Linked DNA regions of Homo sapiens: region 1 is linked to region 2. Evidence: fine-mapped expression QTL. A gene starts in region 2. The other region holds a variant in brackets. All regions are shown on one strand. Distances are from middle to middle.

Region 1 (2,909 bases), 31 kb after region 2:
TTTTGTATTTTTAGTAGATATGGAGTTACACCATGTTGGCCAGACTGGTGTCGAACTCCACACCTCAGGTGATTCGCCTGCCTCAGCCTCCCAAAGTGCTGGGATTACAGGCATGAGCCACCACACCCGGCCTTCTTTTCATATTTAGTACTTCTTTCAGGAGCTCTTGTACAGCAGGTCTGCTGGTAAACAAATTCCCTCAGCATTTGCTTGTCTGAAAGGATCTTTTTTATTCTTCTTTTTTTTTGAGACAGGGTCTCATTCTGTTGCTCAGGCTGGAGTGCAGTGGCATGATCATGGCTCACTGCAACCTCTACCTCCCTGGCACAAGCTATTCTCTGGCCTCAGCCTACCAATTGGCTGGGACTATAGGCAGGTACCACCACACCCGGCTAATGTATATGTTTTTGGTAGAGATGGGGTTTTGCCATGTTTCCCAGGCTAGTCTCAGACTCCTGGATTCAGGCACTCCACCCACCTCGGCCTCCTAAAGTGCTGGGATTACAGGTTGAGCCACCACACCCAAGTTGAAAACGATCTCATTTCTCCTTTGCTGATGAAGCTTAGGTTGGCCAGATGTGAAATTCTGGATTGGAATTTCTTTAAAAATGTTTAATATATTGGCCAGGAGTGGTGGCTTACACCTGTAATCCCAGCACTTTGGGAGGCTAAGGCGGGGGCGGGGGGGGGGGAGAGGGGGGAGGGGGGAGGGGAGGGGATCACCTGAGGTCAGGAATTCAAGACCAGCCTGGCCAACATGGTGAAACCTGGTCTCTACTGAAAATATAAAAATTAGCAGCACGTGGTGGTGCATGCCTGTAGTCCCAGCTGCTTGGGAGGCTGAGGCAGGAGAATTGCTTGAACCTGGGAGGCGGAGGTTGCAGTGACCTGCTGAGATCCCACCACTGCACTCCAGCCTGGGCCACAGAATGAGATTCCATCTCAAAAAAAAAAAAAAAAAAAAAAAAAAAAAGAATGTTTAATATAGGCCTCCAATCTCTTCTGGCTTGTAGGGTTTCTGCTGAGAGGCCCACTGCTAGTCTGATGGGCTTCCCTTTGTAGGTGACCTGCTATGTCTCTCTAGCTTCTTTCATTTTGACCCTGGACAATCTGATGATTATGTGTTTTGGGGATGATCTTGTGAAGTATTTTGCAGGGGTTCTCTGCATTCCCTGATTTTGAATATTGGCCTCTCTAGCTAGACTGGGGAAGTTCTCATGGATAGTATCCTGAAATACGTTTTCCAAGTTGCTTCCATTTTCCCCATCTCTTTCAGGGACACCAATGAGTTGTAGATTTGCTCTCTTTTTTAATCCCATATTTCTTGGAGGCTTTGTTCATTCCTTTTCGTTATTTTTTCTCTATTCTCATCTGACTGTCTTATTTCAGAAAGCCAGTCTTCAAGCTCTGAGATTCTTTCCTCAGCTTGGTCTGTACTACTGTTAATACTTGTGATTACATTATTAAATTCTTATACTGTGTTTTTCAGCTGTATCAGGTCAGTTACATCATTTTCTATCCTGGCTGTTTTGTCTGCCAGCTCATATATTGTTTTATTAT[A/G]ATTCTTAGCCTCCTTAGATTGGGTTTCAATGTTCCTAATCTCAATGATCTTTGTTCCTATCCATATTCTGAAGTCTATTTCTGTCATTTCAGCCATCTCAGCCTAGTTAAGAACTCTTGCTTTGGGAGGCCAAGGTGGGCGGATCACAAGGTCAGGAGATTGAGACCATCCTGGTGAACACAGTGAAACCCCATCTCTACTAAAAATACAAAAAATTAGCCGGGTGTGGTGGCGGGCGCCTGTAGTCCCAGCTACTTGGGAGGCTGAGGCAGGAGAATGGCGTGAACCCAGGAGGCGGAGCTTGCAGTGAGCCGAGATTGCACCACTGCCCTCCAGCCTGGGCGACAGAGCGAAACTCCGTCTCAAAAAAAAAAAAAAGAACTCTTGCTGGAGAACTACTGCAGTTTGGAGGAAAGAGGACACTCTGGTTATTTGAGTTGTCAAGAGTCCTTGTGCTCGTTCTTTCTCATTTTTGTGGGCTGATATTCCTTTAGTCTTTGAAGTTGCTGTCCTTTGAATGGGTTTCTTTTTCCTTTATCCTATTTGATGACCCTGGGGGTTTGATTGTGTATAAGGTGGGTTCAGTTGGATGGCTTCATTATTGGAAGATTTTAGGGGACCAAGGCTCAGCTTAGGACTCCTGAACTGCATGCTCTAACTCTGGAGGACTGGTATCCAGCCCTGGCTTTGATCTCTGGCTCCTTCAGGTTAAGAACCTGCTCTGCTAGAGGGGCCAAGCTGCTCCCAGACAGCTGGTCACAACACTCCAATGGGTGGTGCCAGGCAAAGCACTTCATAGGGTAGTGGCAGCAGGATCTGTTCTTGTTTGCATGTGCCAGCGGCAGCACAGCGGGGTGCACGCTTATCGGCTGTGACAGAGTGCTAGTGGATGTCAGGGAGCCAGCCTCTGGGAGGGCATTTGTAGCAGCAGCAGTAGTGGCAGTATGGCTGGGGTGGGGGCAGGGGCCACGCTGGCAACTGTGCACCTGTTCATTGGTGCCGATGATGGGGTTAGCATGGGGGCACTGGTGGGTGCAGGACTGTGTGTGCCCTTTGTGCATGTTCACACTGGCAGCAGTGGCTGCTCAGGGCTAGGGGTAGGTCCTCTGTTTTCTCTGCCTAGTTTCCTGTGGGAGGCCCAGCATAGGTGGGGAACTGGGAGGGGTGGGGCTGGCGGGCTCTATGCTGCCAACACTCTGACAACAACGGTGGTGGGAGAGGAGAATGAGGGGCTGGGGTGCACTTATGCTGGCAACAGTGGCACAGCAGGGTGCACACACAGGCATGCTGTTGGGGAAGGGTGGGCTAGGTCCACCCACGCACACACCACCAGCAAAACAATATTGAG
Region 2 (2,909 bases):
TTCAGGAGTTCGAAACCAGCCTGGACAACATGGCAAAACCCTATCTCTACTAAAAATACAAAAATTAGCGGGGCATGGTGGTGGGCGCCTGTAATCCCAGCTACTCAGGAGGCTGAAGCAGGAGAATCTCTTGAACCTGGGAGGTGGAAGTTGCAGTGAGCCAAAATCGTGCCACTGCATTCCAGCCTGGGCAACAGAGCGAGACTCTGTCTCAAAAAAAAAAAAAAAGATATATGCATGTACACATCGTATGTAAGAAAACCGCACAGTACTGAAAGGATGAAAAGAAAGAAAGAAAGGGCCAGGGGTGGTGGCTCACGCCTGTAATTCTAATGCTTCAGGAGGACTGCTTGAGGACAGGAGTTTGAGACCAACCTGGACAACACAGCAATACCCTATCTCTATTGATTTTTTTTTTTTTTTTTTTTTTTTGAGACGGAGTCTTTGTCTGTTGACCAGGCTGGAGTGCAGTGGTGCGATTTTGGCTCACTGCAACCTCCGACTCCCGGGTTCAAGCGCTTCTCCTGCCTCAGCCTACCAAGTAGCTGAGACTACAAGCGCAGGCTACTATGCCCAGCTAATTTTTGCTTTTTGTGTTTTGTTTTGTTTTGTTTTAGTAGATACAGGGTTTCGCCATGTTGGCCACGCTGGTTTCCAACACCTGACCTCACGTGAACCGCCTACCTTGGTCTCCCAAAGTGCTGATTTAAATATATATGTACTTTTTTTTTGAGATGGAGTCTCTCTCTGTCGCCCAGGCTGGAGTGCAGTGGTGTGATTTCAGCTCACTGCAACCTCCGCCTCCCGGGTTCAAGCGATTCTCCTGCCTCAGCCTCCCGAGTAGCTGAGACTACAGGCGCCCGCCACCACGCCCAGGTAATTTTTTGTATTTTTAGTAGAGACGGGGTTTCACCGTGTTAGCCAGAATGGTCTCCATCTCCTGACCTCGTGATCCGCCCACCTCGTTTTCCCAAAGTGCTGGGATTACAGGCGTGAGCCACCGCGCCCGGCATAAAATAGATTTTTAATTGTTTTAACATACCACCAACCTTGTCACATGATATTGTCATTTACCTAAAGCTGAAAAATTAATGAATACTGATTAGGTTTACAAAATTAGGTTCAGCTATCCAGTGAACGCTCAAAATATGGCAATAAAAGAGAACGGGGGTGGTGGGGCGTGGCTCAGGCCTGTGATCCCTGCGCTTTGGAAGGCCGAAGCAGGAGGATCACTTGAACCCACGAGTTCGAGACCAGCCTGGACAACACAGCGAGACCCCATCTCGACAAAAAAATTTAAATGAAAATATTAGCCGCGCTCAGTGGCGCCCGTCTGCAGTCTGCTACTGGGGAGGCTGAGGCGGGAGGATCTCTTGAGCCCAAGGGTTCAAGGCTGCAGTGAGCCACGATCGCGCCACTCCACTCCAGCCTAGGTGACAGACCAAGATCGTGTCTCTAAAAAAGAAAAAAAAATCAAGGAGAGAGAACAGGTCACCCAAAAGTGCGCAAAACGCTCAAAAAGGGGTTGGGTTTCCAGCACCCTGTGTGAAGAATGGGAGACCGGAAGTGGGCGCCAAATTCGGAAGTGTGGCAGCAGATAGGAATCGAAGGGCACTCATTCGCTTGGCTCTCTGTCCCGCCCACTACCCGGAAGTGTGGCCCGGGTCCAGAACCAAGAGCGCATGCTCACCTTGTAGCTCAGCCAATCAAAGAGAAGCGAGGCGGCCATTCGGGCGGAAATAGTGTTTGCAAACAGGAAGTGTGGCACTCCAGCTACCGAAGCACTGGAGAGTGTCATGGAGGCCTACGAGCAGGTCCAAAAGGGACCCCTGAAGCTGAAAGGCGTCGCAGAGCTGGGAGTGACCAAGCGGTGAGGCCCGAGGGCCCGCGGGATTCCGTCTTCATCCCCCTTAGACCTTTTCTCGGGACCCCTGGCCCTGATCCTCCGACCCGCCGCCTCCTCATGTCTTTTTCCAGGAAGAAGAAAAAGAAGGACAAAGACAAAGCGAAACTCCTGGAAGCAATGGGAACGAGCAAAAAGAACGAGGAGGAGAAGCGGCGCGGCCTGGACAAGCGGACCCCGGCCCAGGCGGCCTTCGAGAAAATGCAGGAGAAGCGGGTGAGCAGAAGCAGAAGGCGGCGGGGAGGCGGGAACACCCGGCGCCGGGAGACTGGAAATTGGGGTCAGGGCTGGGACGCTCCGAGGGCAGGGGAGCGGTCAGAGGAGACCTTAATTACGGGGAGAGGATGCTGTACGTGAGTGAGAGAAGAGTCGCCCTCTGCCGGGGGAGCTCCAAGGATGAGAAGACCCCGCTGGCCCGAGTGGGCAGCAGAGGGGAGAGCTAGAACTGGCGTTGAAAGGAGGCCAGAGCTGGAGACCCGGGTTTGGATTCCAGTGCTGTGGCTTATTTGCCCTGCGACACTAGGCCAGTGACTTTCTTATTTCCGTGCCTCAAGTTTCCTCTTCTGTACGAGTCAGGGTAGTAACTTATTCTAAGAGGGTTGGGAACTTGAGAGGAAGTCATGAAAGTAAAAAGCAGTGCATACATGTTCAGTGGATGCCAGCTCTTGATATTAAATGGCCATGCTCGCCGCTCGAAGTCACCACAAAGTTTGTTTCCAAGACAACTTTGTTTGGCAGATTCAAACATGCTGTATTTTTTAAAAAATTAGTTATTTTTGGCGGGGTCAGAGCACTGCAGCCTCTGCCTCCGGGGTTCAAGCAATTCTCCTGCCTCAGCCTCCCGAGTAGCTGGGATTGCAGGCGCCCGCCACCACACCTGGCTAATTTTGGTATTTTTCGTAGAGATGCGGTTTCACCATGTTGGCCAGGCTGATCTCGAACTTCTGATCTCAAGTGATCCGCCCGCCTCAGCTTCCCAAAGTGCTGGGATTACAGGCGTGAGCCA

The links.
Region 1: its variant is fine-mapped to the expression of FAM32A in whole blood (TOPMed, PIP above 0.99).

Annotation. Positions count from the first base shown.
Region 1 is chr19:16,214,520-16,217,428 of GRCh38, forward strand. The region is part of intron 5 of AP1M1 (adaptor related protein complex 1 subunit mu 1); the gene reads left to right. Among named protein-coding and RNA genes, the nearest start is that of AP1M1, 18 kb to the left of the region's middle. The variant A/G (reference allele first, on the strand shown) is at 1,561.
Region 2 is chr19:16,183,647-16,186,555 of GRCh38, forward strand. It overlaps FAM32A (family with sequence similarity 32 member A), which reads left to right and starts at 1,764. Exons shown (of 4, transcript NM_014077.4): 1 at 1,764-1,870; 2 at 1,978-2,119. The coding sequence starts at 1,797. RefSeq lists enhancers at 771-1,406, 1,309-1,358.